Regions from separate parts of the Homo sapiens genome. Here regions 1, 3, 4, 5 and 6 are each reported to be linked to region 2. The links are microRNA targets in miRTarBase. Many come from high-throughput screens and were not tested one by one. Region 2 holds a microRNA gene; each other region holds the end of a gene's coding sequence. Distances are between the middles of the regions.

Evidence for each region. Region 2 holds the annotated microRNA hsa-miR-2467-3p (AGCAGAGGCAGAGAGGCUCAGG, at 3,611-3,632, shown strand). A microRNA usually pairs through its seed, bases 2 to 8, with sites in the 3' UTR of a target mRNA and lowers its output. Matches are read on the target gene's strand: a 7mer-m8 pairs with bases 2 to 8, a 7mer-A1 pairs with bases 2 to 7 and ends in A, and an 8mer does both.
Region 1: the mRNA of E2F1 is a reported target of hsa-miR-2467-3p. Seed matches in the 3' UTR shown: 7mer-A1 at 2,422-2,428.
Region 3: miRTarBase lists NKAP as a target of hsa-miR-2467-3p. Seed matches in the 3' UTR shown: 7mer-m8 at 491-497.
Region 4: the mRNA of GEMIN6 is a reported target of hsa-miR-2467-3p. Seed matches in the 3' UTR shown: 7mer-m8 at 1,414-1,420 and 7mer-m8 at 1,733-1,739.
Region 5: the mRNA of PGAM4 is a reported target of hsa-miR-2467-3p. Seed matches in the 3' UTR shown: 7mer-m8 at 580-586 and 7mer-m8 at 915-921.
Region 6: miRTarBase lists ZBTB46 as a target of hsa-miR-2467-3p. Seed matches in the 3' UTR shown: 7mer-m8 at 3,689-3,695, 8mer at 3,077-3,084 and 7mer-m8 at 659-665.

Annotation. Positions count from the first base shown.
Region 1 is chr20:33,674,261-33,679,363 of GRCh38, forward strand. E2F1 (E2F transcription factor 1) reads right to left here. Exons shown (of 7, transcript NM_005225.3): 4 at 3,941-4,093; 5 at 3,166-3,280; 6 at 2,845-3,070; 7 at 1,217-2,719. The coding sequence ends at 2,472. It overlaps NECAB3 (N-terminal EF-hand calcium binding protein 3), which reads right to left and starts at 168. Exons shown (of 12, transcript NM_031232.4): 1 at 1-168. The coding sequence starts at 92. RefSeq lists enhancers at 1-24, 695-1,195 and a silencer at 1-508.
Region 2 is chr2:239,350,513-239,355,363 of GRCh38, reverse strand. It overlaps MIR2467 (microRNA 2467), which reads left to right and starts at 3,560; the gene lies at 3,560-3,640. HDAC4 (histone deacetylase 4) reads left to right here. Exons shown (of 27, transcript NM_001378414.1): 2 at 2,446-2,686. The coding sequence starts at 2,665. RefSeq lists a silencer at 2,704-2,897.
Region 3 is chrX:119,922,651-119,926,916 of GRCh38, forward strand. NKAP (NFKB activating protein) reads right to left here. Exons shown (of 9, transcript NM_024528.4): 9 at 1-2,744. The coding sequence ends at 2,570. Among named protein-coding and RNA genes, the nearest start is that of NKAP, 19 kb to the right of the region's middle.
Region 4 is chr2:38,781,537-38,784,536 of GRCh38, forward strand. GEMIN6 (gem nuclear organelle associated protein 6) reads left to right here. Exons shown (of 3, transcript NM_024775.10): 3 at 1-3,000. The coding sequence ends at 356. Among named protein-coding and RNA genes, the nearest start is that of GEMIN6, 4.8 kb to the left of the region's middle.
Region 5 is chrX:77,964,500-77,969,399 of GRCh38, reverse strand. PGAM4 (phosphoglycerate mutase family member 4) reads left to right here. Exons shown (of 1, transcript NM_001029891.3): 1 at 1-1,451. The coding sequence ends at 526. The region is part of intron 1 of ATP7A (ATPase copper transporting alpha); the gene reads right to left. It also overlaps the pseudogene C4orf46P2. Among named protein-coding and RNA genes, the nearest start is that of PGAM4, 2.7 kb to the left of the region's middle.
Region 6 is chr20:63,743,126-63,748,269 of GRCh38, forward strand. ZBTB46 (zinc finger and BTB domain containing 46) reads right to left here. Exons shown (of 5, transcript NM_001369741.1): 5 at 545-4,176. The coding sequence ends at 3,805. It overlaps ZBTB46-AS2 (ZBTB46 antisense RNA 2), which reads left to right and starts at 700. Exons shown (of 3, transcript NR_186425.1): 1 at 700-1,603; 2 at 2,403-2,550; 3 at 2,698-2,826. It overlaps SLC2A4RG (SLC2A4 regulator), which reads left to right. Exons shown (of 8, transcript NM_020062.4): 8 at 1-925.

The DNA.
Region 1 (5,103 bases), not on the chromosome of region 2:
GGCGCGAGCTGGGGGTGCCGCGGGGTCTGGGGCTGGGGCTGGGGCGCGGGCGGCCGGAGCAGGCACACGGTGAGCAGCCCCGCGCACGCCATGGCGCCGCCACCCGCTCGGGCTCGGCTGCGGTTGCTGCCGACCCTGGACGCCGCGGCGGACTCGGTGTGGCTAGAGGCCGCCCCTTGGCGCCGGCGCCGACGCGCGGGCTCAGGCCCCGCCCCCGCCCCGCCCCCGCGGACGCCGGGTTCCCTCGCCTCAAGGTCCAACTCCAGCGCCGCGGGCCTCCGCGCTTCCGCGGCCACGGCGGAGGGGGAGGCGCCCGAGGGCTCCGGTCCCGCGACGGCCTGTCGGGAGCAGAACCTAGGGGCTGCGGGCCTACCCAGAGGGACAGGATGACCAAGCCAGTGCCGAGGTCAGGGTGACACAAGTGGGTAAAACCCACCAGGACTTCACCTTTTGGGGCGTCTGTATCCTCATCTACAAAAATGGTACTGGCAGACACCCTATGCAATTGTTGGGACTCATTCAATGTCAAGTGCTTACAACGGGGGCTGGCGCAGAGGAAGCCCACAGGTCCGTGCGGCCGAATCCCAGGCATCCCGACGCCCGCCCTCTCTGGCACTAAGCGCAGCCCTTTCCCCTCCCCTCCGTGACTCTGGCCCTCCCTTCAACCCGTTCTCCACACAGCAGCCGGGGGGAGCTTTTAAGATGCGAAAGAGGAGGTGTCACTTCGGTCTCCAGTGACTCCTTGGCCCCTGAATAAAGCTTAAGACTGAACGCCCCACTCCAGGAGCACCACTCTGACCCTCACCTCAGGACCGCAGCCACACTGCTTTCTCTCCGGTCCTCTATCCCGCTCCCTCCTGCCCAAGGCCTTTGCCCATCGTGTCCTCTGCTTGGTGTTTTCTTCCTCTGGTTAACTCCTACTTATTTTACAGCGCTCAGCTTAAGCACCACCCATTCCAGAACGCCTTTCCCGATTTTCTCATTTATGCAGATCTCCTCTTTCAGACCCTGAGAGCACCATGAAAGGAGGTAACACCCGTGTCCCCAGAACTGTTAAATACCTGACACAGAACCAGCCCACTGTATTTGTTACATGTTTACTAATGTCCAGAAACGTCTGGAAGGAAGACAGCAAACTGAGCAGAGTGGCCTCTGGGGCTGGGGAAAGGAGAGGCCACTCATTACTCTGCACTTCGGGCAGCACTGAATAGCATTCTTGGCTTTCTACAACAAAAACCTTTACTGGATCTGCTTTTGAGTTAGGACCAAAACAGCGAGGAAGCTGACCTTTCTTCGAGTTATGAGGCTCAAATCAAATCGGGCACGGACAGGGAGAAGGGAAGTGGAGAATGGGCATTTCCCCAGCAACCTTGGCCTCTCCCGCCCCGAAATGTTCCCAACAGAGTCCCAAAACCCGGCCCAAACGTCATCAAAATATTTATTAAAACCAAAGCAGGAGGGAACAGAGCTGTTAGGAAGCAAATCAAAGTGCAGATTGGAGGGTGGGGCAGAGCAGTGGGGAGGCAGGCGCTTCAGACACTGCAGGAGGGACCACAGGGTCTGGGCTGGGGGAGGCCTTCACCACCCCTCCTGCCCACATCAGTGAAGGTCCCCCACTCACCTCTCCCATCTCATATCCATCCTGGGGGGCAGCTGGGGCCCTGAACTGGCCCCCTGGAGAGGGCCCACCCCACCATCTGACCACCCATGGCTGTCAGTCAGTCTGTCTCCCTCCCTCACTTTCCCAATAAATAAATCACCCAGGCCTCAGTTCCTTCAGTATGGGGCAGAAGAACAGCTCAGGGACCCCTGCCCTTGCTCAAGGGTAGAGGGAGTTGGGGTATCAACCCCACACCCCTCCTCCCCTTTGCTGATTCCCCAGGCTCACCAAAGAGGCCTCGATAAATAAATAACGCTCCATTAAAGCTTCAATCAGAAAAAACCTTTAAGACAGAAGTGCTCTCACCGTCCTACACGCCCAGCCAGCCAAAGCCTCCCCACCTGGCCTGGTCAGAGCACCAGATTCTGGGAGCAGGCACTGCCCTGGGCCTTGTGGGACCCCCAGAGCAAAAGGGCCGAAAGTGCAGTTAGAGCCCCCCCACGCGCACACATGGACTCATGCACACACATGTGGACACACTGGGGCGTGTCTGCAGTGCACACACAGAGGTGTATGTTCACCTTCATTCCCCGGTACATGCACACACACATGCTCACACACATTCACCCCCGGTACACACGTGTGGGTGTAGGCTGCATGCACATACACACCACACAGACTCCTTCCCTTCCTGGCTTGCTCAGCCTCCTAGCGGTAGCCAGACCCCAGAGCTAGAAGCTTCTGGAGACAGAGGAGAGGGGTATAAATTAAATGTTTCCAAACAGGCTGGGAGGACGGCCAGGGACAGGGGGCTCCAGGGCTGCAGAGACAAGGTGAGCATCTCTGGAAACCCTGGTCCCTCCAAGCCCTGTCAGAAATCCAGGGGGGTGAGGTCCCCAAAGTCACAGTCGAAGAGGTCTCTGATGCCCTCGCCCTCCTCGAGGCCGAAGTGGTAGTCGAGGGCCTCGTGGGGTGGGGAAAGGCTGATGAACTCCTCAGGGAGGAGGCCGGAGAAGTCCTCCCGCACATGCTCCAGGAGCGAGTCGGCCGCCACCAGCGGGGACAGGCGGTCCTCGTCCACGGGAGCCCGCAGGCTGCCCATCCGGGACAACAGCGGTTCTGGGGAGACGGGGAGCATCACAGGCCGGGGATGCCCCAGCAGGGAGGAAGGCAGGGGCTGTCGTGCCTGCCCACCCCCCAGAAGAGGGGCCCTGCCCCACCCCACCCACCTACCCATCACCCACCTTGCTCCAGGCTGAGTAGAGACTGGCTGGGATCTGTGGTGAGGGATGAGGGGGGAGATGATGGTGGTGGTGACACTATGGTGGCAGAGTCAGTGGCCCTGTTCTCCTCCTCAGAAGTGACCTCCTGGGATGGGGTCTTCCCAGGGCTGATCCCACCTACGGTCTCCTCAGGGCACAGGAAAACATCGATCGGGCCTTGTTTGCTCTTAAGGGAGATCTGAAAGTTCTGGGTGGAAGCAGCAGGCAGGGTAAACTGAGGCCCAGGTGACCACCAGCCCAGCCCAGCCCAGCCCAGTTGGGCCCGGAGTTCCCAGATCTCACCTCCGAAGAGTCCACGGCTTGGAGCTGGGTCTCAGGAGGGGCTTTGATCACCATAACCATCTGCTCTGCAGGGTCTGCAATGCTACGAAGGTCCTGACACGTCACGTAGGCCAGGGTTGGCAGAGTCAAGGACCACATGACCTTTGACTTCTAGGGGGTCACTCACTCCAACAGCTCACAAGGCAGGGCTCACACCTGCCTAGTCACTCCTGTCCTCCCAACCTCCTACCCACTCAAAACCTACCTCACGCCTGAGTTTCAAGTTCCACATCTGTATAATGAAATCACTCTACCCATTGAATCCCAAGGTAATAATGGCTACCGGGAACGATTCCATGTAAAATGTTCAACACAACTCCAGGCCTGGTGCTGGGAATTTATTTTTTAGAGGCAGGGTCTCGCTATGTCACCCAGGCTGGAGTGATGTGGCTCAACCAGAGCTCACTGCAGCCTCAAACTCCTGGGCTCAAGTGATCCTCCCACCTCAGCCTCTTGAAGCACTAGGATTACAGGCATGAACCACCGCACCTAGCCACTTTTCTTTTTTAATCTGTACAATTTCAGAATTGGATATTATTATTCCCCTTTTATAGATAAAACTGAGGCCAAGAGGTTAAGCAATTTATCCAGTGTCACAACAGTGAGAAAATGCTGAGCCAGGACTTGCAACCAAAATCAGAGCTCTCTCTTAAATCCAAGCCTCTCTAGTCCCACTTGGGTGGAGCCCCTGCCTGCTAAGCCTGCCTTCCACACCCTACGGCCAATCCAAGGATATCGCTGGCTGTCAGTGTCCTCGGAGAGCAGGCGCAGCTGCGTAGTACAGATATTCATCAGGTGGTCCAGCTGCTGCTCGCTCTCCTGCAGCTGTCGGAGGTCCTGGGTCAACCCCTCAAGCCGTCCGCCGACGCCCACTGTGGTGTGGCTGCCCCTGTGGGGAGGCACCAGGGAGGGTAGGGTTAACAGCGATTGGCCCCTCTGGCCAGGAGCCCTGGGCCTCAGGACAGAGTCTGCTGTTGCCTCTGTTCTGTGAGGCCTAGGCAAGCCCTTGCTTCTGTCTGGGTCTGGCTCCTCAGCTGGGCTCCAAATCAGAGTGTCATGGGCTTGAAGTCTGGCCCGAATATAAACACCTACATGTCCCTCAACCAGGGCGGGATAAACAAATGATGGGACTGACATGCCACGAAATATTACACATGCACACACACATGCATTTCCAAGACATGCTGTCAAATGAAAAAAAAAAAAAGGCTGGGCTTGGTGGCTTATACCTATAATCCCAGCACTTTGGGGGGCTGAGGCCAGAGGATTGCTTGAGCCTCAGGAGTTTGAGACCAGCCTGGGCAACACAGTGAGACTCTGCCTCTACACAAAATCAAAGACATTAGCCAGACATGGTGGCATGTACTTGTAGTCCTAGCTACAGGTACGGAGCTTGAGCCCAGGAGGTTGAGGCTGCAGTGAGCTGTATTTGTGCCTCCATACTCCAGCCTGGGCGACAGAGCAACACCCTGTCTCAAACCACCCCCCTCCACCCAAAAAACCACAAAAGATGCAGAATGGAACGATCTACCAAAAAATGAAACGGCAGGTGTATCAAAGAAAGGGTAGTAGCATGATGACTGGCGCGAAGGCGAGAGGGGGAAAATAAAACAAGAATAAAATATCTATGCCAGACAGATCTCACCGAGGGCATGAGAAGCCAGGATAGTGGTGACCTGGCGGTGTGAGGGGTTGGCAATGACTGGAAAGGGGCACAAGAGAACCTTCTAGGGTGTTGAAAATGCTCTTATCTTGATCTGAATGGTGGCAACCCAGATGAATAAATATATAAAGCTGCGCGGGGCGCAGTGGCTCATGCCTGTAATCCCAGCACTTTGGGAGGCTGAGGCAGGCAGATCACCTGAGATCAGGAGTTCGAGACCAGACTGGCCAACATGG
Region 2 (4,851 bases):
GCTGCCTGGGAATGCAGAATAAACAACAGATGTGTCACCGGTGAAAGAGGCCAGATCTGATGGGGAGACTTCAGCCAAATAGCATAGGAACTCTGAAGAAGCCAGAACAAGTTTAACAAAAATAATAATCAGTGACATAATTGAAGAACATTTTCCTGAGCAGAAAGAAGACCTATATTTGTTGAAAGAGTCATGTTTTGAACAAAATAAAAGACTCTTACTTATGTATCTTCTGACAACGTTTTTGAATTTTAAGATTCAAGAAAAAAATGCCAGTAGATTCCAGGCAGAAGAAAATGGTAACAACCACAACATCAAGACTCGGCCCCCAAAGTTTTACCTGGAAAGAAGCTGTAATTGAGCTGGACTTAAACTTCCCTACAATGTTGAGGGGGGAATGACATCCAAAAATTTTGAGGGGGGCATATTTGTGATCTAAGATTTTTATACCCAGCTGAGATGTGTTTTTTTGTGTGAAGGATACTGTCATCTGAGATTTGTGAGGGTTTGAAAAATATGCCATCTACATTCCCTTCAAGAAAATGTCTCTTTCTGACCAAGAGATGAATAAACATTCTGACCCTGAAGACAAATAAGTCATTGTCATTCCTAAGGAGATAACCAGATACAGAACAACAGTCATGAAGATATTAATCAGAGTTGTAGATACAATGAACATAAAGTTGGAAAGCATCTAGATAGCCAGCCTTGGGGGCGGGGGTGATTCTTTACATGATGAACTGGTTAGAGTTCTTTGGTTATAAGCAATTGGCAAAAAAAAAAAAAAAAAAAAAAAAAAAATTTCTAGACTAATTAAATCAAGAAAAGGAATTGGTCACACTTTTAAAGAAAGATGAACACAGAAGCCTCTGAAAGCACTTGAGCTGGGATCAGCCAGGGACTCTCAGTGGTAGGAGTGCTGAGACTTGTCTCTTTTGGGTTCATCTAGTGACTGATCTATTGAAGAGGCAGGCCTTGGAAAGAGAACTTGATGAGCTCAGCTGGTGCCACATGCCACTCTTTGGCCCGACACTTCCCTGGGAGCAGCAGGCTCATCCGAAGCTCCTGAAGTGGGGCGGGGCAGCTGTCTATCCACACATGGAATAGGAAACAGCCCTTCAAAACGAAGCTTACCAGGTATTGTTAATGCCATTGGAAAATGCCTGGCTGTAATATCAGCACAGAGAACGTGATAGACAGCTGTATCACTAGAGGTTCGTATGGGCAAAAGGCAAAGAAAAACAACGGCAAGGAAGCATGTCAGAATGTTACCAAGGGCTTGTCTGTGTGTGATGGCATCATGGATGACTTTTTAAATACTTAACCTGTGATGCGCATGTATTGCTTTTATAAGCAGAAAATGAAAACCTGAGAAAATGGTCATTATGAAGACAGAAACATGAGGGAACTATTTTAGGTTATCATGTTACGTGAGGAATGCGGACTTTAGAATTAAATTCTGTGATTACACAGACATTGTGACTACGAATGTCTATGGATCCAGGCTGATGCAAGCGTGCAGTAATGACATTTTGTGGTGGGAATGTGCTGAAAGTGATTTTTCTTTTAAAACATTTTATTTCATATTTATTTCATAAGCTAATATGACAGAATAAATTTATATTAGTTGGAAGATACTCTGCTTCCTTTCAAAAGCCTAATGTTGGAGAAACTTCTGGAAGGGGTAAGGAAGGTGTCTCTAGATCAGATATTTTGAACCAGGGGATGATATTATCCCCCAGAGGACCTTTGGCACTCCCTGGAGACATTCTTGGTTGTCATGACCTGGAAGATGCTGCTGGCATCTGGTGTGTGGAGGCCCAGGATCCTGCTAAATATCTTATAATGTGTATGGCAGCCCTACACCCCAACACCTAAATACGCAAACCAAAATCCCAGTGGTACTGAGGCTGAGAAACCCTGCTCTCTGGAGACATTTTTACATGTCTGTGATTTACTAACAAAAATCCCACTGCTCGTATTTGTAGAAATGATTCCGTCGAACTGTTCTATCAGTCCTTGGTCAGAACAAGGATAAAGAAGGAAGTTGGTGGGGCGTGGTGGCTCAAGCCTGTAATCCCAGCACTTTGGGAGGCTGAGGTGGGTGGATCACTTGAGGTCAGGAGTTTGAGACCAGCCTGGGCCAACATGGCAAAACCCCGTTTCTACTAAAAATACAAAAATTAGCTGTGCCTGGTGGCATGCACCTGTGTTCCCAGCTACTCGGGAGGCTGAGGCAGGAGAATTGCTCGAACCCAGGGTTGCAGGGGTGGTGGAGGTTGCAGTGAGCCCAGATCGTGCCACCACACTCCAGCCTGGGCGATAGAGCAAGATTCTGTCTCCAAAAAAAAAGAGGAAGTCATCATTTCCCTAGTTGGATGTTGTTTTCCAGATCGGAACTTCCATGTTGTAACTCCAGTCTCTTTTCTCCTTCTGACCTTGCAGGTTCATCTGCAGAAGCCAGCGGACGCCTCTGTTCAACTTGTGGGTTACCTGGCTCATGAGACCTTGCCGGCGAGGCTCGGCGCTTGAACGTCTGTGACCCAGCCCTCACCGTCCCGGTACTTGTATGTGTTGGTGGGAGTTTGGAGCTCGTTGGAGCTATCGTTTCCGTGGAAATTTTGAGCCATTTCGAATCACTTAAAGGAGTGGACATTGCTAGCAATGAGCTCCCAAAGCCATCCAGGTAAGGCCGGGTCATTTCTTCTCTGGGCACACAGCGGGGCTTTCTTTGCCCAAAGTAGAAGTTCTTGTGACTGCAGCTTGCTTTCTGGATTTGAGACTTTTGTTTTTCTTGATAGTGGTCACTGTTGGTTTTTGACAGCACAAAGTGCAAAATGGATGGTTTATTCTTCCTCTTGGTGAAAGAAGAATGATAAAACCTGGGAGGATGTGGAGTCAAGTCTGCGACCCCGGTTTGCAGGCTGACTTGAGAGGCACACAGGTTTCCTCGATGCTTTTTGACAAGGGTGATGTTGAAAGGTCAGGTTGTGATGTGGAGAGCTGGTTTCTTGCCCAGTGTCTTTGTTGTTTCATGAGGGGTTGTGTGAGGGGTGGGAGTGCTCCTCCAACTGGGCGTCTGGGCTGTCTGGGAAGAAGCTCATGTTCCCACTGAGGTCGTGGCCACAGTTGCTCCTGGTGTTTGAGGGCCTCTGTGAGGGGCTGCACTAAGCATTTTACAAGCATTTAGTACAGCCCCAGATCATCTCAGGCCTGGAGGGAAGAAGTAATTTGCCTGAGGTCACAGAGCTGGTAGGTGGGGGACCCACATGATTGGGAAGCAAGCTTGTCCTGCTCTGAGCTTCAGAAGCATGTCATGGGCCCATCCATTTACGACTTCACACTTTCTGTCCTTGGAAAGTCACCGAGAGCGTGCACCATAATGAAACCTCGAGGCCTGCCGCCGACCTGCCTGAGTGTGGGGCTCCTGCAGAGCCAGTCCTGTGCTGCCCAGCTTCCTGCCACTTCCAGCGCACCGTGGCCTTCAAGGGCACTTAGCCATCGACTTCTGTCTTGCGTCCACATGAGAGAGAAGACGGTGGCCACTGGACAGACGCTTGGACAGGCACCTGAGGCTCTGTTAGCCTTGGCTCTGGGTCCTGCTCCTTAGAGCAGAGGCAGAGAGGCTCAGGGTCTGTCTGGGTCACTCTCTTTGAGATTGCCGGAACGCTTACACACATCTTTCCCTGGGTGGAATCGTCTTTGTCTGAAAATTCCAGAGGGCAAGATTCCAGGTTTTTTTAGATATGAAAGTTTTATTGAGTTAAATTGTTTATGTATTGACTGATGTAAAGAAATGGTTTATGATCATTCCAAGACAAAATTAAGCGCTATGGCTCAAAGTGTCTAAATAGACATTGAATGGAGCTGGCTCTCTCCCTCCTACACTGGGCTGCTGTTGGGTGAGAGTGTATCTTTTTTCTGTGTCTAAACATAGTGTGATGTGTGTGAGCATTTTCATAGAGTATAATTCTATAGGCAGGGCCCTGTGTTTTACATTCTGTCCATTTTAATGTGTTATAAGCATCTTTTGGTATCAGTATGTGTGCAAATATAACTTGCTCTTTTGATACCTTGCGAATGGATATTTATGTGGTTGTAGCAGTGTTTATACCAATTCCAAATTGGCATCAAACAATTATTATACATATATTTTGTAAACTTCTAAGTATCACTACTAGACAAATTCCAGGAAGTGGAAGCTGGGTCAGTGAGCCCGTGCACTTAAAACATCATTAGGTTGACTGTCAAATTGCTCCAGAAGCCTCGTTCCAACTGATCTTCCTAATTCCAGTGTAAGAGGATGCATATTTTTCATTTGTGCTGTACCAGCACTGGGTAGGTTCAGTCTCTCTCATTTTTGTCAGTGTGCTATGGGAAAATTATTGTTTGAGTACACTTGATTATTTTAATGGGGGTGCATATTTTTGTATGACTTGGTGTACACATAATCATAATTTGTACATGCTCTGCAGGCATTTGAAGAGAAAGTATGCTCTTAGGATTTTGTTTCAGTCTAAAGACGTCTGTATGTATGTATCAATATTGTATTTAAAGTTCTCGGCCGGGCGCAGAGGCCCACAGCTGTAATCCCAGCACTTCGGAAGGTCAGGGTGGGCAGATCACAAGGTCAAGAGATTGAGACCATTCTGACCAACATAGTGAAACCCCATCTCTACTAAAAATACAAAAATTAGCTGGGCGTGGTGGCGTGTGCCTGTAGTCCCAGCTACCCAGGAGGCTCAGGCAGGATAATCGCTTGAACCTGGGAGGCAGAGGTTGCAGTGAGCTGAGATTGCGCCACTGTACTTCAGCCTGGCGACAGAGCAAGACTCCGTCTCAAAAAAAAAA
Region 3 (4,266 bases), not on the chromosome of region 2:
CAGGAGGTGGAGGTTGCAGTGAGCCGAGATTGCACCACTGAACTCTAGCCTGGGTGACAGAGGGAGACCCTGTCTCAAAAATAATAATAAAAAAACTTTTGCTCTATACTTTGAAATATGACTGCCTTATTTAAACACTTTTGAAAAACAACCACTTAAAAATATAAGGCAAGCGGGCATTTTACAATAGTATAATCAGAATGTCCTTATCACTCAGGTAATTTAAATTTATCATAGGCATGTAATAATAATGCAGATCAAATAACCTTAACAAAAACGGCCAGGCACGGTTGCTCACACCTGTAATCCCAGCATTTCAGGAGGCTGAGGCGGGCAGATCACTTGAGGTCAGGAGTTCGAGACCAGCCTGGCCAAGATGGCGAAACCCCATCTCTATTGAAAATACAAAAATTAGCCAGTTGTGGTGGTGAGTGCCTGTAATCCCAGCTACTTGGGAGGCTGAGGTGGGAGGATCACTTGAACCCAGGAGGCAGAGGTTACAGTGAGCCGAGATCACACCACTGGGCTCCAGCCTGAGTGACAGAGTGAGACTCTATCTCAAAAAACAAAAAACAGAAAACCAACCTTAATGAAAACAGCCAAAACTTCCTGGGTTCCCTCCCCCATTCACTCTTCTGACCTAATTAAAATTGAACGAAATAAACAAAGGAACAAGACCACGATATCATAGTCCCACAATTTTCCATTTCTCCCCAACTTAAAAACAAACAGAAAGGTTTAAGTGTTTAAAATGAAATCTACTTAGTATATGAAAGACAGTTAAAAATATTTAATATCATTTTAGTTTCTCTTATGAAACAATTAAGCTAAAATACTGACTCATTATATTTTTCCTTATCAAAACTCTTGACCATAGTTGACTCCTATTCTTTTGGATGTTATCCTATCCTCAAGCTCATATCAGCTCAGATTGAAATAAAGTATTTACATGGGGATAAGAGTAGACTTCTTAAGACTTTATATTTCAAATAACTATTTTTAAGTAACTTATTAAGAATTTAGGCTGGACGCAGTGGCTCATGCCTGTAATCCCAGCACTTTGGGAGGCCAAGGCGGGCGGATCACCTGGGGTTGGGAGTTCGAGACCAGCCTGACCAACATGGAGAAACCCCATCTCTACTAAAAATACAAAATTAGCCAGGCATGGTGGCACATGCCTGTAATCCCAGCTACTCAGGAGGCTGAGGCAGGAGAACTGCTTGAACTTAGGAGGTGGAGGTTGTGGTGAGCCGAGATCACCCCATTGTACTCCAGCCTGGGCAACAAGAGCGAGATTCCATCTCAAAAAAAACAATTTAAAATATCTAATGTTCACATTTTCAATTCAACAAATCTGTGGGTTAGTTTGCTTTTTGGTTTGTTTGTTGGTTTTAGAGTGGAGGTAGGGACTTAAATCAAAACCCATTATTTCCAGGGTAGATCATATATTATAGTACACAAGTCAGTTTTCAAATTCCAGATTTGCTTTTCGCAGCAATGCCTTCATTTTGTTAACAAAAGTGGCCTCCTATATGTTCCTATCAAGTCCATTTATAACACATTCAACACAGAGGAGTGATAATTTCCCAAAAGTTCAGCTGGGGTAGAGGTCGGGGTGGGGCAGGCATCACATAGAGCTAATAGTAGCACTGTCTCATGGTGTGAGATTGAAGTTTCTCATCTCACTAACACTTTTTGTTCAAGCCACCTCCTCCAATACAGTAGCATTTTATTCATAATTTGGATTTTTTTTTTTTGAGACAGAGTTTCACTCTTCTTGCCCAGGCTGGAGTGCAATGTCACAATCTCGGCTCACTGCAACCTCCGCCTCCTGGATTCAAGCAATTCTCCTGCCTCAGCCTCCCGAGTAGTTGGGATTACAGGCGCCCACCACCACGCCCGGCTAATTTTTGTATTTTTTGGTAGAGACAGGGTTTCACCATGTTGGCCAGGCTGGTCTCGACTCCTGACCTCAGGTGATCCACCCGCCTTGGCCTCCCAAAGTGCTGGGATTACAGGCGTGAGCCACCGTGCCTGGCCTTTTATTTTTTTCTGAGACACAGTCTTGCTTTGTCGCCCAGGCTGGAGTGCAGTGGCACAATCTCGGCTCACTGCAACCTCCACCTCCTAGGTTCAAGCAATTCTCCTGCCTCTTCCTCTCGAGTAGCTGGGACTACAGGTGTGCGCCACCACTCCTGGCTGATTTTGTATTTTCAGTAGGGACAGGGTTTCACCATGTTGGCCAGGCTGGTCTCGAACTCCTGGCCTCAAGTGATCCACCCGCCTCAGCCTCCCAAAGTGCTGGGATTACAGGCGTGAGCAACCGTGCCCAGCCCATAATTTGGATTTTTAAACCAGAAAGTTACTATGGTCAATCCAAAATAACCCAAAGAACTTGCTAAAGTTATATCAATAAGCAGCTTTTTATTGAAGGACTGAAAGAATTAAATAGAAGGCACAGTAGCACTGTAAAGCTTTCTCAGAACATAATAATCTTTTTCTATGTATGTGTGGAACCCAGACTTTCTTTTTTGTTGTTAAAAATGTCTTCTGGACAATCAGAAAATCTTTATTTGTCATCCTTCCCTTTGGTCTTTCTGTAAACCATTTCTCGAAAACTGGCCAGAATCTTGTTCTCTCTCTTTCGTCTCTCTTCTTGGTTAAAGGATGCAAGGGCTCTCTTCTCATCAGCACTGTAGATCTGGTTCTCTTTTCGCAGTCGCACAGCCTCCATTCGGCGATGCCTGGAGAGAATTTTATTTTTGGCTTAATTTCTCAGTAATTATTTTCATAGTACATCATCATTAATCCTTTCTTACCCAGAGTGGTCTATTTAACAGCTGACAAAAATTGAAATGGGTTAAATTTCCAAAAGATCATTTATTAATATTTTAGCTGCCTGACACGTCCTTTTTTTTTGTTTTGTTTTGAGATGGAGTCTTGCTCTGTTGCCTAGGTTGGAATGCAGTGGCACGATCTCGGCTCACTGCAACTTCCACCTCCCTGGCTCAAGCAATTCCCCCATCTCAGCCTCCTGAGTAGCTGAGATAACAGGTCTGGCTAATTTTTGCATTTTTAGTAGAGATGGGGTTTCACCATGTTGGCTAGGCTGATCTCGAACTCCTGACCTCAAGTAATCCGCCTGTCTCAGCCTCCCAAAGTGCTGAGATTACAGGCGTGAGCCACCGTGCCCGGCCCTGATATGTCTTTGATTCATTTCCACTATTCAAATAATGATCTCTGATTTCCTGTCAACATAGTAAATGTTATCCTTTTTTCTTTTTTTTTTTTTTTTAATTTTTTTTTTTTTTTTTTTTGAGACGGAGTCTCGCTCTGTCGCCCAGGCCGGACTGCGGACTGCAGTGGCGCAATCTCGGCTCACTGCAAGCTCCGCTTCCCGGGTTCACGCCATTCTCCTGCCTCAGCCTCCCCAGTAGCTGGGACTACAGGCGCCCGCCACCGCGCCCGGCTAATTTTTTGTATTTTTAGTAGAGACGGGGTTTCACCTTGTTAGCCAGGATGGTCTCGATCTCCTGACCTCATGATCCACCCACCTCGGCCTCCCAAAGTGCTGGGATTACAGGCGTGAGCCACCGCGCCTGGCCTATCCTTTTTTCTTTTCTCCTTTTTGTGAGTCTTAAAGTCTGGCTCTGTCACCAAGGCTGGAGTGCAGTGGCACAATCTTGGCTCACTGCGACCTCTGCCTCCTGGGCTCAAGTGATTCCCCTGCCTCAGCCTCCCGAGTAGCCGGGAGTACAGGTGTGTGCCACCACGCCCGACTAATTTTTGTATTTTTAGTAGAGATGGGGTTTCGCCATGTTGGCCATGCTGGTTTCGAACTCCTGACCTCAGGTGATCCACCTGCCTTGGCCTCCCAAAGTGCTGGGATTACAGGTGTGAGCCACCATGCCTGGCCGCTATCATTAATTTCAAATACTAAGGGTATACGTCTAATTTGTTTCCAGTAAAACAATCAGAAATGGGCAAATTATTAAACTTCCTAGGTGACATATCCATTTGCCTTTGTGGAATTGGAAGTAGGATAGATAAAACATTTAACTAGTCATTAATCAGATGGAACTTCCTTCAAGGTTCTACTTTACCATAAAACCAAAAGAACCAAGTCTAGGCTGGGCATGGTGGCTCACGCCTGTAATCTCAGCACTTTTGGAGGCTGAGGCAGGCAGGTCACCTGAGGTCAGGAGTTTAAGACCAGCCTGGCCAACGTGGTGAAACCTCGTCTCTGCTAAAAATACAAAAATTAGC
Region 4 (3,000 bases), 200 Mb from region 2:
TTGAAGATGGCAGCATGTCTGTGACCGGAATTATGGGACATGCTGTGCAGACTGTTGAAACTATGAATGAAGGGGACCATAGAGTGAGGGAGAAGCTGATGCATTTGTTCACGTCTGGAGACTGCAAAGCATACAGCCCAGAGGATCTGGAAGAGAGAAAGAACAGCCTAAAGAAATGGCTTGAGAAGAACCACATCCCCATCACTGAACAGGGAGACGCTCCAAGGACTCTCTGTGTGGCTGGGGTCCTGACTATAGACCCACCATATGGTCCAGAAAATTGCAGCAGCTCTAATGAGATTATTCTGTCGCGTGTTCAGGATCTTATTGAAGGACATCTTACAGCTTCCCAATGAGAGGCCAGGAAGTGTGAACATACTGATAGAAAAAGACTATATTTTATCCCTCATAAAATGTTTTAAATGTAAATGTACATGACTGTGTGTGTGTATGTGTGTGTGTGTATAATTCTTTGTTGTTTTGGTAAAATCAGAGGAGTGGGTTATAAGTGCTAATTTCCTTGGGAAATTAATGAACTAGGGCAAGTATAGCATCCCATGCATAAAATTAGCACAGGGACATCAGAATTGTATGGGTCTTCTTTTTTCTTTTTTTCTTTTTTTTTTGAGATGGAGTCTCGCTCTGTTGCCAGGTTTGAGTGCAGTGGCGCAATCTCAGCTCAGTGCAACCTCCGCCTCCCAGGTTCAACCGATTCCCCTGCCTCAGCCTCTCGAGTAGCTGGGACTACAGGTGCACGCCACCACTCCCAGCTAATTTTTTGTATTTTAGTAGAGATGGGGTTTCACCTGTATGGGTCTTTTCTTGTGATGGGGTTACACCCCCATTTTTGTTAGGCAAGAAAAGCATTTGGAAAAAAATGTAACATGTTAGATTCAATATAAAATATTATGGTAAGATCATGGTCTTGTTAAGTCTCTTCACTAACTGTATGTGTCTGTTTTTAAAAGATGTGTCTTGGTGGGGCGCGGTGGCTCACGCCTGTAATCCCAGCACTTTGGGAGGCCGAGGCAGGTGGATCATGAGGTCAGGAGATCGAGACCATCCTGGCTAACACGGTGAAACCCCTTCTCTACTAAAAATACAAAAAAAATTAGCCGGGCGTGGTGGCAGGTGCCTGTAGTCCCAGCTACTCAGGAGGCTGAGGCAGGAGAATGGCATGAACCCGGGAGGCAGAGCTTGCAGTGAGCCGAGATCGCGCCACTGCACTCTAGCCTGGGTGACAGAGCGAGACTCCGTCTCAAAAAAAAAAAAAAAAATTATTGGAACACAGCATTACCTATTGAATTACAGTTTTCTGGTTTTTTTGTGGAGTTTTTGTTTTGGTTTTTGAGATGGAGTTTCACTCTTGTTCCCCAGGCTGGAGTGTAATAGTGCAATCTCGGCTTACCACAACCTCTGCCTCCCAGGTTCAAGCAATTCTCCTGCCTCAGCCTCCTGAGTAGCTGGTATTACAGGCATGCACCATCACGCCCCACTAATTTTGTATTTTTTTAGTAGAGACGGGGTTTTTCCATGTTGGTCAGGCTGGTCTCAAACTCCCGACCTCAGGTGATCCGCCCGCCTCGGCCTCCCAAAGTTCTGGGATTACAGGTGTGAGCCACCGTGCCCGGCTGTTTTTTGTGGGTTTTTTGTTTGTTTGTTTGTTTTTGAGACAGAGTCTTGCTCTGTCACTCAGGCTGGAGTGCAGTGGCACAATCTCGGCTCACTGCAACCTCTGCCTCCTGAGTTCAAGCCATTCTCCTGCCTCAGCCCCCTCAGTAGCTGGGATTACCAGGCACATAGCACCATGCCCAGCTAATGTTTGTATTTTTAGTAGAGACAGGGTTTCACCATGTTGACCAGGCTGGTCTTGAACTCCTGACCTCATGATCTGCCTGCCGTGGCCTCCCAAAGTGCTGGGATTATAGGCATGAGAGCCTCCGTGCCTGGCTTTTTTTTTTTTTTTTTTTTTTTAAAAGAGGGTCTTGATATGTTGCCCAGGCTTGTCTTCAACTCCTGGGTTCAAGTGATCCTTCCACCTTGGCCTCCCAAAGTGCTGGGAATATAGGTGTGAGCTGCCATGTCCAGCTGTAAGAAATATTTTAAAATATTTAAGCTTCAGGGCCTTTGAATACAGGCCCTGATAACATAGCTATTTTCCTGCATAGTTGTCTAATAACAAGATGGTATAGCCCAGTGCTTCTTGCACTTTAGCAAGCATCAGAATCAGCAAATATTTAGGTTTCAGGGCCTTTGAATACAGTCTGATAACACAGCTATTTTCCTGCATAGTTGTCTAATAACAAGATGGTATAGTCCAGTGCTTCCTGCATGTTGGCAAGCATCAGAATCAGCTGCAGGGCTTTTCAAAACAGATTGCTGGACCCTCCTCCCAACAGATTCTGATTCAGTAGTTCTAGTTGGGACCCAGGAATTTGCATTTCCAACAGACTCCCAGATAATGATGTTACCGTTCCCAGACCACACTTGCAGAAGCAGTTCAGAAACTTCAGGGGAACAGAAAGTTCCTCCCTCACGGCTTCAAAGTTCCATGATCCTGAAAGCAAAATTTAGCACACATCACCTTTCTCCTAGTGGCTAAGACTCTCCTGTTCAAACCCTGGATGTCTTCAGAAAGCAAATAGAAGGGGAATATGAACAGACTGAAGTCAGCAAGGAAATGACTGACAAGATGAGGGAGGCCTTTGAAAAGGAAGAAGCCAGCTGGGCGCGGTGGCTCACGCCTGTAATCCCAGCACTTTGGGAGGCCTAGGCGGGCCGATCACTTGAGGCCAGGATTTGTGACCAACCTGGGCAACATGGTGAAACCCTGTCTCTACTAAAAAAAAAAAAAATAGCTGGGTGTGGTGGTGAGCGCCTATAATCTCAGCTACTCAGGAGGCTGAGGCACTCGCTTGAATCTGGGAGGTGGAGGTTGCAGTGAGCCGAGATTGTACGCATTCCAGCTTGGGCAGCAGAACGAGACTCTGTCTCAAAAAA
Region 5 (4,900 bases), not on the chromosome of region 2:
AGTGGTGAGGACTTGGCGCCTCAATGAGCGGCACTATGGGGGTCTAACCGGTCTCAATAAAGCAGAAACTGCTGCAAAGCATGGTGAGGCCCAGGTGAAGATCTGGAGGCGCTCCTATGATGTCCCACCACCTCCGATGGAGCCCGACCATCCTTTCTACAGCAACATCAGTAAGGATCGCAGGTATGCAGACCTCACAGAAGATCAGCTACCCTCCTATGAGAGTCCGAAGGATACTATTGCCAGAGCTCTGCCCTTCTGGAATGAAGAAATAGTTCCCCAGATCAAGGAGGGGAAACGTGTACTGATTGCAGCCCATGGCAACAGCCTCCAGGGCATTGCCAAGCATGTGGAGGGTCTCTCTGAAGAGGCTATCATGGAGCTGAACCTGCCGACTGGTATTCCCATCGTCTATGAATTGGACAAGAACTTGAAGCCTATCAAGCCCATGCAGTTTCTGGGGGATGAAGAGACGGTGTGCAAAGCCATAGAAGCTGTGGCTGCCCAGGGCAAGGCCAAGAAGTGAAGGCCAGCGGGGAGGATACTGTCCCCAGGAGCACCCTCCCTGCTGGTCTTGTCCCTCTGCCCCTCCCACCTGCACATGTCACACTGACCACATCTGTAGACATCTTGAGTTGTAGCTGCAGATGGGGACCAGTGGCTCCCATTTTCATTTTAGCCATTTTGTCGCCTGCACCCACTCCCTTCATACAATCTAGTCAGAATAGCAGTTCTAGAGCACAGGTTCTCAGTCTAAGCTGTGGAAAAGCTCCCCTTATCCAACAGAGTTTAAAAGTAGTGACTTGGGTTTTTGTGAGTGCTTTGTTTACTAAGGACTTTGGGGAGGAACATGCTAAGCCACGACCAATGAGGAGAAGCAACAGAGCCTGTCTGTCCCCATGAGCAGAGTCTGTCCTCTGCTCTTCTGCAGTCAGGCCACTGCCTGGGGGCTCTAGTCATTCCAGTGGAAGATGAATGTAATCTGCATGGTGATGTGACAACTGTTTCCTCCTTGACCCCAGAGGATCTGGCTCTAGGTTGGGATCAATCCTGAATTTCGTTATGTGTTATATTTACTTTTATTAAAAAAGTATAGTATATATTAATAATACAAAACAATAACCCTTCTGGGGTTTCTTGTGGCGGTTGAAATAGTCCCACATGTGGTCATCAGAAAATAAGCCATTCCTCATACCAATATAGGATCAGCTCCTTGACCTCTGAGGGGCAGGAGTGCTTCCTGGTGTGTGTATTAGAATCCCTTCCTGCCTTGTTTCATGGCAGTGAAATGCCTCTTGGTCCTGTCCAAGTGTGTCTTTCACTGATTTCTGAATCATGTTCTAGTTGCTTGACCCTGCCACATGGGCCCAGTGTTCATCTGAGCATAACTGTACTAAATCCTTTTACCAGATCAGTATAATAAAGGAGTGATGTGCAATTAAAAAAAAAAAGTATTACAACATCATTTTAGTTTTGGTGAGCTCAGAGAAACTTAAGCAGAAAATGCTGAACCATGCCCGCTGCTACTAACAAAGCAAGATGATTAATGGACTCTTGTAACTTCTCCAACTAATTTCTGTGGAGCTTTGAACAATTAGACCACCCAGTCTATGGTATTATGTTATGGAAGCCTGAACTAAGACATATGCATTCTTTTTTAAATTGGGATATAATTCACATGCTATAAAATTCAGCCTTTTAACCTACAGAATGGGAGAAAACATTTTGCAATCTACCCATCTGACAAAGGTCTAATATCCAGAATCTACAAGGAACTTAAACAATTTACAAGAAAAAAACAACCCCATCAAAAAGTGGGCAAAGGATATGAATAGACATTTCTCAAAAGAAGACATTTATGCGGCCAACAAACATATGAAAAAAAGCTCAACATCACAGATCATCAGAGAAATGCAAATCAAAACCACAATGAGATACCATCTCACACCAGTCAGAATAGCAATTATTAAAAACTCAGGAAACAATAGATGCTGGTGAGGCTGTGGGGAAATAGGAACGCTTTTACACTGTTGGTGGGAATGTGAATTAGTTCAACTATTGTGGAAGACAGTATGGCGATTCCTCGAGGATCTAGAACCAGAAATACCATTTGACCCAGCAACCCCATTACTGGGTACATACCCAGAGGAATATAAATCATTCTACTATAAAGACACATGCACACGTATGTTTACTGCAGCACTATTTACAATAGCAAAGACTTGGAACCAACCCAAATGCCCATCAATGATAGACTGGAGAAAGAAAATGTGGTACATATACACCATGGAATACTATGCAGCCATACAAAGGAATGAGATCATGTCCTTTGCAGGGATATGAATGAAGCTGGAAACCATCATCCTCAGCAGACTAACACAGGAACAGAGAACCAAATGCTGCATGTTCTTGTTCATAAATGGGAGTTGAACAATGAGAACACATGGACACAGGGAGGGGAACATCACACACCGGAGCCTGCTGGGGGGTGAGGGGTGAGGGGAGGAAACTTAAAGGATGGGTCAATAGATGCAGCAAACCACCATAGCACACATGTACCTACGTAACAAACCTGCACGTTCTGCACATCTATCCTGGTTTTTTTTAGAAGAAATGAAAAAAATTCAGCCTTTTAAGGTATCCAGTTCAGTACTTTTTAGTACATTCACAAGGATGTGCAACCATAATGACTATGTAGTTGCAAAACATTTTCATTACTCCAAAAAGAAATCCCATGTCCATTAGCAACACTCCCCATTTCCTCTCTACTCACAGCCCCTGGCAAACACTAATTTTATTTCCTATCTCTACGGATTTGCCTATACGGCCATTTCATATAAATTGATTCATTCAATATGTGTCCTTGTGTGTCTGGATTCTTTCACTTAGCATAATGTTTTCAAGGTACATTGATGTGTAAAATGTATCGGTATTCCATTCTTTTCACTTTCTTGATGGTGTCCATTGAATCACAAAAGCTTTTAATTTGTGAAGTCCAATTTATCTTTTTTCTTTTGTGTTTTTTGTGTCATATCTAAGAAACCATTGCCACATTCAAACTTACGAATATTTACTGCTATGTTTTCTTCTAAGAGTTTTTGTAGTTTTGGCTCTTATATTTAGGTCTTTAATCCATTTTGAGTTAATTGTTGTACATGGTGTATGGTAAGGATCTGACATACATTGTTTTACATGTGGATGTCCTGTTTTCCCAACACCAGTTTTAAAACATTCTTGAGATGTAGTTCACGTATTATATAATTCGCACATTTAAAGTGTAGAATTCAATAGTTGTTAGCATATTCACAGACATGTGCAACCATCACCACAGGCAATTTCAGAACATTTTCATCACCTAAAAACAACAACAACAACAACAAAACATACCCCTTACCTATCAGTCATCACCTCCTAAGCCTTCTGTCCTGGGCAACCACTAATCTACTTTGCTTGTATAGATTTTCCTCTTCTGGACATTTCAGATGAATGAAATCATGTAATATGTGGTCTTTTGTGACTGACTTCTTTCATGTAGCATGTTTTCAGTGTTCATCCATGTTACAGCACATATCAGTACATCATTCCCTTTTATGGCTGAATAATATTCCACTGCATAGATACACCATAATTTATCTATTTGTCAGTTGATGAACATTTGGGTTGTTTCCATCTTTTGGCTATTATGAATAATGCTGCTATAAACATTCATGTACAAACTTTTGTGTTTTCATTTCTCTTTGGTAATACCTAAGAGTAGACTTGCTGGGTCATATAATAACTCTATGTTTAATTGTTTGAGGATCTGCCAGACTGTTTTCCAAAGTGACTGTACCATTTATACTCCCATGAGCAGTATATAAGGGCCCCAATTGTTCCACCTCCGATACCTATTATCTTTTTTATTCTACCCATCCTAGCAGGTGTGAAGTGGTATCTCATTGTGGTTTTGATTCACATTTCTCTGATTACTGATGATGTCAAGCATCTTTTCATGTGCTTATTGGGTATTTGTATATCTTCGAAGAAATGTCTATTCAAGCACTCTACCCAATTTTTAATAAGGTTATTTTGTTGTTGTTGTTGAGTTGTAAGAGTTCTTTATATTCTTGGATATTAATCCCTTATCAGATATATGACTTTCAAATACTTTCTCCTATCCAGTTGGTTGTCTTTCACTCTTTTTTTTTGAAATAAAATTTGCTTTTAATAAAAATTTATTTTGTACATTTTTAAAATTGCAATTTTCAGGACATGTAAGAAAAATATTTTTCCTCATACTGAAATAAGCATATCTTTGGTATAGAAATCACACCCTGTGTGTGATCTTTTAACTTAAAAAAAAAAAAGTCCAGTGCTTTTACATTGTTGGCGGGAGTGTAAATTAGTTCAACCATTGTGGAAGACAGTGTGATGATTCCTCAAGGATCTAGAACTAGAAATACCATTTGACCCAGTAATCCCATTACAGGATATATACCCGAAGGATTATAAATCATTCTACTATAAAGACACATGCACATGTATGTTTATTGAGGCACTATTCACAATAGCAAAGACTTGGAACCAACCTAAATGTCCATCAATAACAGACTGGATAAAGAAAATGTGGCACATATACACCATGGAATACTCCGCAGCCATAAAAAAGGATGAGTTCATGTCCTTTGCAGGGACATGGATGAAGCTGGAAACAATAATTCTCAGCAAACTATCACATGAACAGAAAACCAAACACTGCATGTTCTCACTCGTAAGTGGGATTTGAACAATGAGAACACACAGACATAAGGAGGGAAGCATCACACACTGGGGCCTGTCGGGGGGTGGGGATTAGGCGAGGGATAACATTAGGAGAAATACCTAATGTAGGTGATGGGTTGATGGGTGCAGCAAACCACCA
Region 6 (5,144 bases), not on the chromosome of region 2:
GGGGCGGGGCTGACCCTGAACCCTCCCCCCCGCCAGGTCGGGGAGGGGTCCCACCACTCAAAGTGCCTCTAAAGAAACCAGCTTTTTGCACTAAAGCCAAACCACACCGCTGTCCCCTTAGCCCCAAGGGCCCTGGGGGCAGCCACCCTCCCGCCTGTCGGCCCGTAGATTTATCAAGGGTGTTATGGGCCCAGCTTTGGGGGGCCAGTCCCGATGCACTTTGAGGGGTGTTGGAGAGGGGACTCCCCCACTCGCACTTAACTCAACGGCTCTCGGGCCCTGGGGCTGTTTTTACCATGTTTGTTTTTGAAGCTCAGGTGTCTCACGTCTGGGCTGCACCAGGCGAAGAGAGAAATTAAAGATTTGAGGTTTTTCCAGAAGCTTTGTCTGCCTCTCGGGAGGAAGGCCGTGGGGCTGGGACCCTGTGGTGGGCAAGTGGGTGGAGTCTGGCAGCTGCCCACAGAGGGCCGAGGGTCACCCGTCGGCCGCCGCCACCCCAGGCGAGGCCGGAGGAAGGATCATCTGAGACGCAGGAGGCATCTGCTGGAGCAGCAATTTCCCAATTTATTGAAAGTGATCGCTTTGCAAGGATGTCTAAGCTAATCCCGTCACAGAAAGGAAACGCACAGGCGCCTAGGCAGAAACTTGGAGACTCACCGCAGAGGCCACGTGAACCCACGGCCACAGAGAGGCAGGACGGCAGAGCCATGATTTCCCACCGAGCGATTACGAGAACCTCTTCCCCCAATAGTAGACACATCTCCAATACAAACACAGGTTTATAATAAGTAATAGGAAGTCAATATAATATAGATTATCCCCAGAAAAAAATCAACAATCTTCAAACACTGCCCTTTTTTTGTGTGTTTTGTTTTTGTTGACAGGTTGAAAGCATGTTGAAAAAAATAAATATTTAAGAAAAGCACACACAGCACCCTCACTACAAGTAGTTCTAAAAGGGCTGCATACAAAACACAATATAAGATCTAAAAAAAACCACCACCATTAAGTATGGCTTTCTTAAGAGTCGCACATGTCACAGAATGAGCTAAAATAAGATTACTTCTTTTATAATATTGCAAAAAGTTCCAGTTTTTGCATTTTCTCAGTTTTTTAAAGAGGAAGATGTGCAAAGTTGGAAGCAGTAAGCTGCGTCTTCTGAGTCAGTTCCCTACGTAGCCCTGGCAGTGTCCTGTGTCCCAAAGCTCAGAGAGCCCCAGTGTACAACCTGGTCAGGATCCAGAGCTTGACAGAAAAATCGTGGTGTCCCTGCCCCCTCCCCGCCCCCAAATAACACCATCCCCAATGGACTGTATTTCCCACTTTGGTGTTGTAAACACCAAAATACAAACAGACACAAACAAAAATACAAAATGTGAAATGTAATCTACACATTTTTCCTCTTCATAAAAAAATATTTATTAGTTTGAACATCGATTTAAAAAAAAATCAGTCACATAAAAAAAACCCTTCATGACATGTCTTTTCCCTCCACGCCTCCTGAGATGGACGTGCTCACCTGGGCCTCGGAAATCCCACACTCTTCAGTCGGCAAACTGCGAACAAGAACAGGAAATCTGCCACGCAGCAAACACTTGGGGAGGTCAGTGGGACACTGTTGGTTTTAGGGAAGAAAATGCCCCTGTAGCTCCGGCGGGGAACCCCAAAACGGTCAGCAAAGGCAGGCCACACGGAGTGAGCCGGCCAGATGGAGCAGGACATCCTGAGTGTGGAGGGGGAGGCGGGCCTGGGTCCTGGGCAGGGTGGCCTGAGAGCAGGGACTGGTACAAAACCCAGAGACATTGGTGGGTAGCAAAGGTCTGGTTTCCAAATGCATTTTGTAAGAAAGTCAGTCTGTTTAGAAAAAGGGTTTAAAAATCAGGGGAAAGGTACAAAGTTCTGAGAATTCTCAAAGAGGCCGGGGTGGGGCTGGCCTGGGGTGAGGGCTGGAGGGCTCCGCTGCAGCTCCCTGGTAGCCATGCTCTCCCCCTGGGGGACTCGTGCCAGAGCCACCCACCTTGCTCGGTAAGAGTGGGCAGGGCTCACCGCTGAGGGGCCAGCGCTTGGCCCGGCTCCTATCCCCACACTCCGTGTGCAGAAAAATCTTGGCCTCTTTCTCCAGCTTTGAGGAGCCCACAGCCTCCGAGCTGAGGGGTGTGTGTGATGACAGCTCCAGCCAGGGCACCCTGTCATTGGTAGAACCGGGGGCCAATGTCAAAAAACAAAAGCCGTGACTCCTGCGCTGTACCTGGAGTCCTCCATGTACTCCTCCACAGGACCCCCGGCCAGCCCCAGCCCTCCCCGAGCAGCAGCGGTCAGGGAAGCTGGTGCTCTACCTGACAATGTGGGGAAAAGCCTGGTATACAGGCTAGAAAAAGAGAGTAAAAACTCTTTCCACGCAGCCCTGAAGCTCAGCACTCCGGGGGGTCTTCACACGGGCAGGTCCTGGAGGGAAGGAGGAGGCCACCGCGCCCACCTCCCATCTGAAGGCACAGCACCGCAGTGGTGGCCTGTGCCAGAGGAGGGGGTGAAGGATGGAATGTCCTCATGGTGAGTGCTGTCAGAGGCAGGCCTGAACGAGAAGACAGGCCGTGGCAACGGTCCCGAGGCTGTGAGTCTAGGCAGCCTGCCTCCGGGACCCCCAAAGCCAGGCGGTGCACCACAGCACACACCGTGGGACCTTTGCTTTTCACTCAGGAAAAGAAAGAACATGTGAGTGCTTCTGAAAACACAGCAAGAGGACTTGAGCACAAGCTAAAGGAAAAACAACCCTATATAGTTTCTTCGAGTGAGAAAAATAATGCCAAACAAAATAATTTTATGTAACTACCTCGATATGTCTCTGACTACTTAAAAATTTGGTTACCCACGCGGGGAGGTGTAAGCAGCACACTGCAGTTAGGAACACCGCCTCCAGTGTTAGCAGCAAAGGCAGGAGCCCAGCTCCAGCCCGTCCAGGAGGGGTCAGCAGGAGCGGCCGGGCTGGGCCATGGGCAGAACAGGACGGGCAGAGCCCGGGGTGGACGTGGCAGCCCAAGGCTCTCCGAGGAAGTGCACACGACTGAGCCGAGGCCCTTGCAGAGGGAACCTGGTGTGGCCTGAAGTGGTGGGGGGCACAGGGCTGAGGGTCCCCTCCTGGAAGGAGCCCCCAGGGCTGTGTCCACCTAAGATAGCACCTGGAGCCCTCGGCCTCCAGCAGGGTCTGCAGCTGTGTTGTGTGTTAAGCACCAAAGCCCAGAGGTAAGACGGTGGCAGGGCTCTCTGTGCACCTGGATTCTACAGGCTGCCATGGGCCACGGCTGCACCACGGGCCACGGCTGCAGCCACAGGCAGTGACCTGGCTGCTAGGGGAGGGGAGGGCGGGCTCCAGCCGGGCTGACCGGGTGTCTGTAAAACTCTGCACCTGCTCAGGCCAGGGGCCTCTGGGCCGAACACACCACCCCGCCCAGTGCCCACTGGACCCGGCCACAGGCCCATCACGTGTCCAAGCCAGGCTGGCCATCACAGGGGCCACTCACACACCCGCACCACCTGCTGGGGACTTAGGACCGTGCTCTCCCTTCACTCAAACCCACCCTGTGCCCTCCCCCAACTCACTTCATGTCTGGTCCCAGAGCACCCCTCTTGCTGGGGTCGCACCTGCTTAGCCCGCAGGGCTGGTTTCCGTGGGGGGTGGGTTCAGGGGGAAGCAGAGGAGGGGCCGCGAGAGGGGTGAGCGTGGCCCTGGCCCCGCAGTGGAGACCCACCGGACACACACACGGGTGGACGGAGCGAGGCAGCCACCGACCCTGCCGGCGGGCGGGCCTAGGAGAGCCAGGCGAAGTCCTTGTCAGGGCCTCCTGGGGGGCTGCGCGGCCGCGGCGAGTCTTCCTCATCCTTGTCGTCCGCCAACAGCGCATCCTCAGGGGCCAGGCCCTCGTCGTCCTCGCCCAGCTCCTCCGCCTCCCCTCGTGGGTCCTCAGGGTCCTCCAGATAGGGCCCGTCGCCTGGGAACAGCGCCTCTGGAGAGCCCTCGCCGCCTCCGCCGCCATGGTCCAGGGGCCCGGCCATGCCGCGGCCAGCACAGTCGGTGCACACACCGTGGCGCCTGGAGCCATGCCTGATGCCCACGCTGGCGGCGGACATGAAGACGCGGCTGCACACCTTGCACACATACTTCTTGTCCTTGCTGTGGACCTGCAGAGGCAGGGCAGGGGGTGAGCAGGGCCTGGTGGGTTGGGGGGCGGGGCAGGGGGTGAGCAGGGCCTGGTGGAGGTGGGGGGGGCAGGTGGTGAGCAGGGCCAGGTGGAGGTTGGAAGAGGGGGCAGGGGGTGAGCAGGGCCTGGTGGAGGTGGGGGGGGCGGGGCAGGGGGTGAGCAGGGCCCGGTGGAGGTTGGGAGGGGGGCCAGGGGGTGAGCAGGGCCTGGTGGGTGGGGGGGGTGCGGGGGTGAGCAGGGCCCGGTTGGGGTTGGGGGGGCACAGCCTCCCGGGCCCTCCGAGTGTCTGCACAGGCAGAGACTCCTGGTGGGGGAGGTGCGCAGACAGGAGTGCTCAGACCTTGAGCCCCAGCTCCTATCAGAGCCACACAGCAGAACTGCAGGTGGCACCAAGGCAGCCCTGTCCCAAGGGGATGCTGGCACGAGGGCGGCAGTGCCCCTCCCCCGCAAACCCAGCCCCTAGGTGGGCCAGTCTCAGCGTCTACACTGTGTGTCCAAGCACCCCCACCAGAGGCCCCCTGGGTTGACACACTTCTCACGGGGGTCACACCACCGGCCTCTGCCTAAAAGCCTGGCTTCCTCCAAACCTCCCTGCAGGACAGGCTGAGGGCCCCGCATTGGACTGGAGCTCACAGAGCTCTTCCTGTACCCAGCCGTACAGGGACGGGCCGGGGTTGGGGCTGCCAGCCGGGCAGGTGGGCCCACACCTCAGCCTGGCTGCGTGGACACCCCCTCAGCCCCTGACCCCCTCAGTCCCTGACCCCTCAGCCCGACCCTGACTCCAGGAACGTGTAAAGGAGGCAACTCCCCCACTCTCAGGCTGTTTCAAGGTCGACTGAGACATGCAAGAAGAGAGATGAGCACTTATGGTCAGAGGAGGAGGTGTGGCTGCCAGGGAGGGCAGTCGTGCTGTGCCCTGTGCTGGGCCCGGCAGGGAGATGGGGCAGC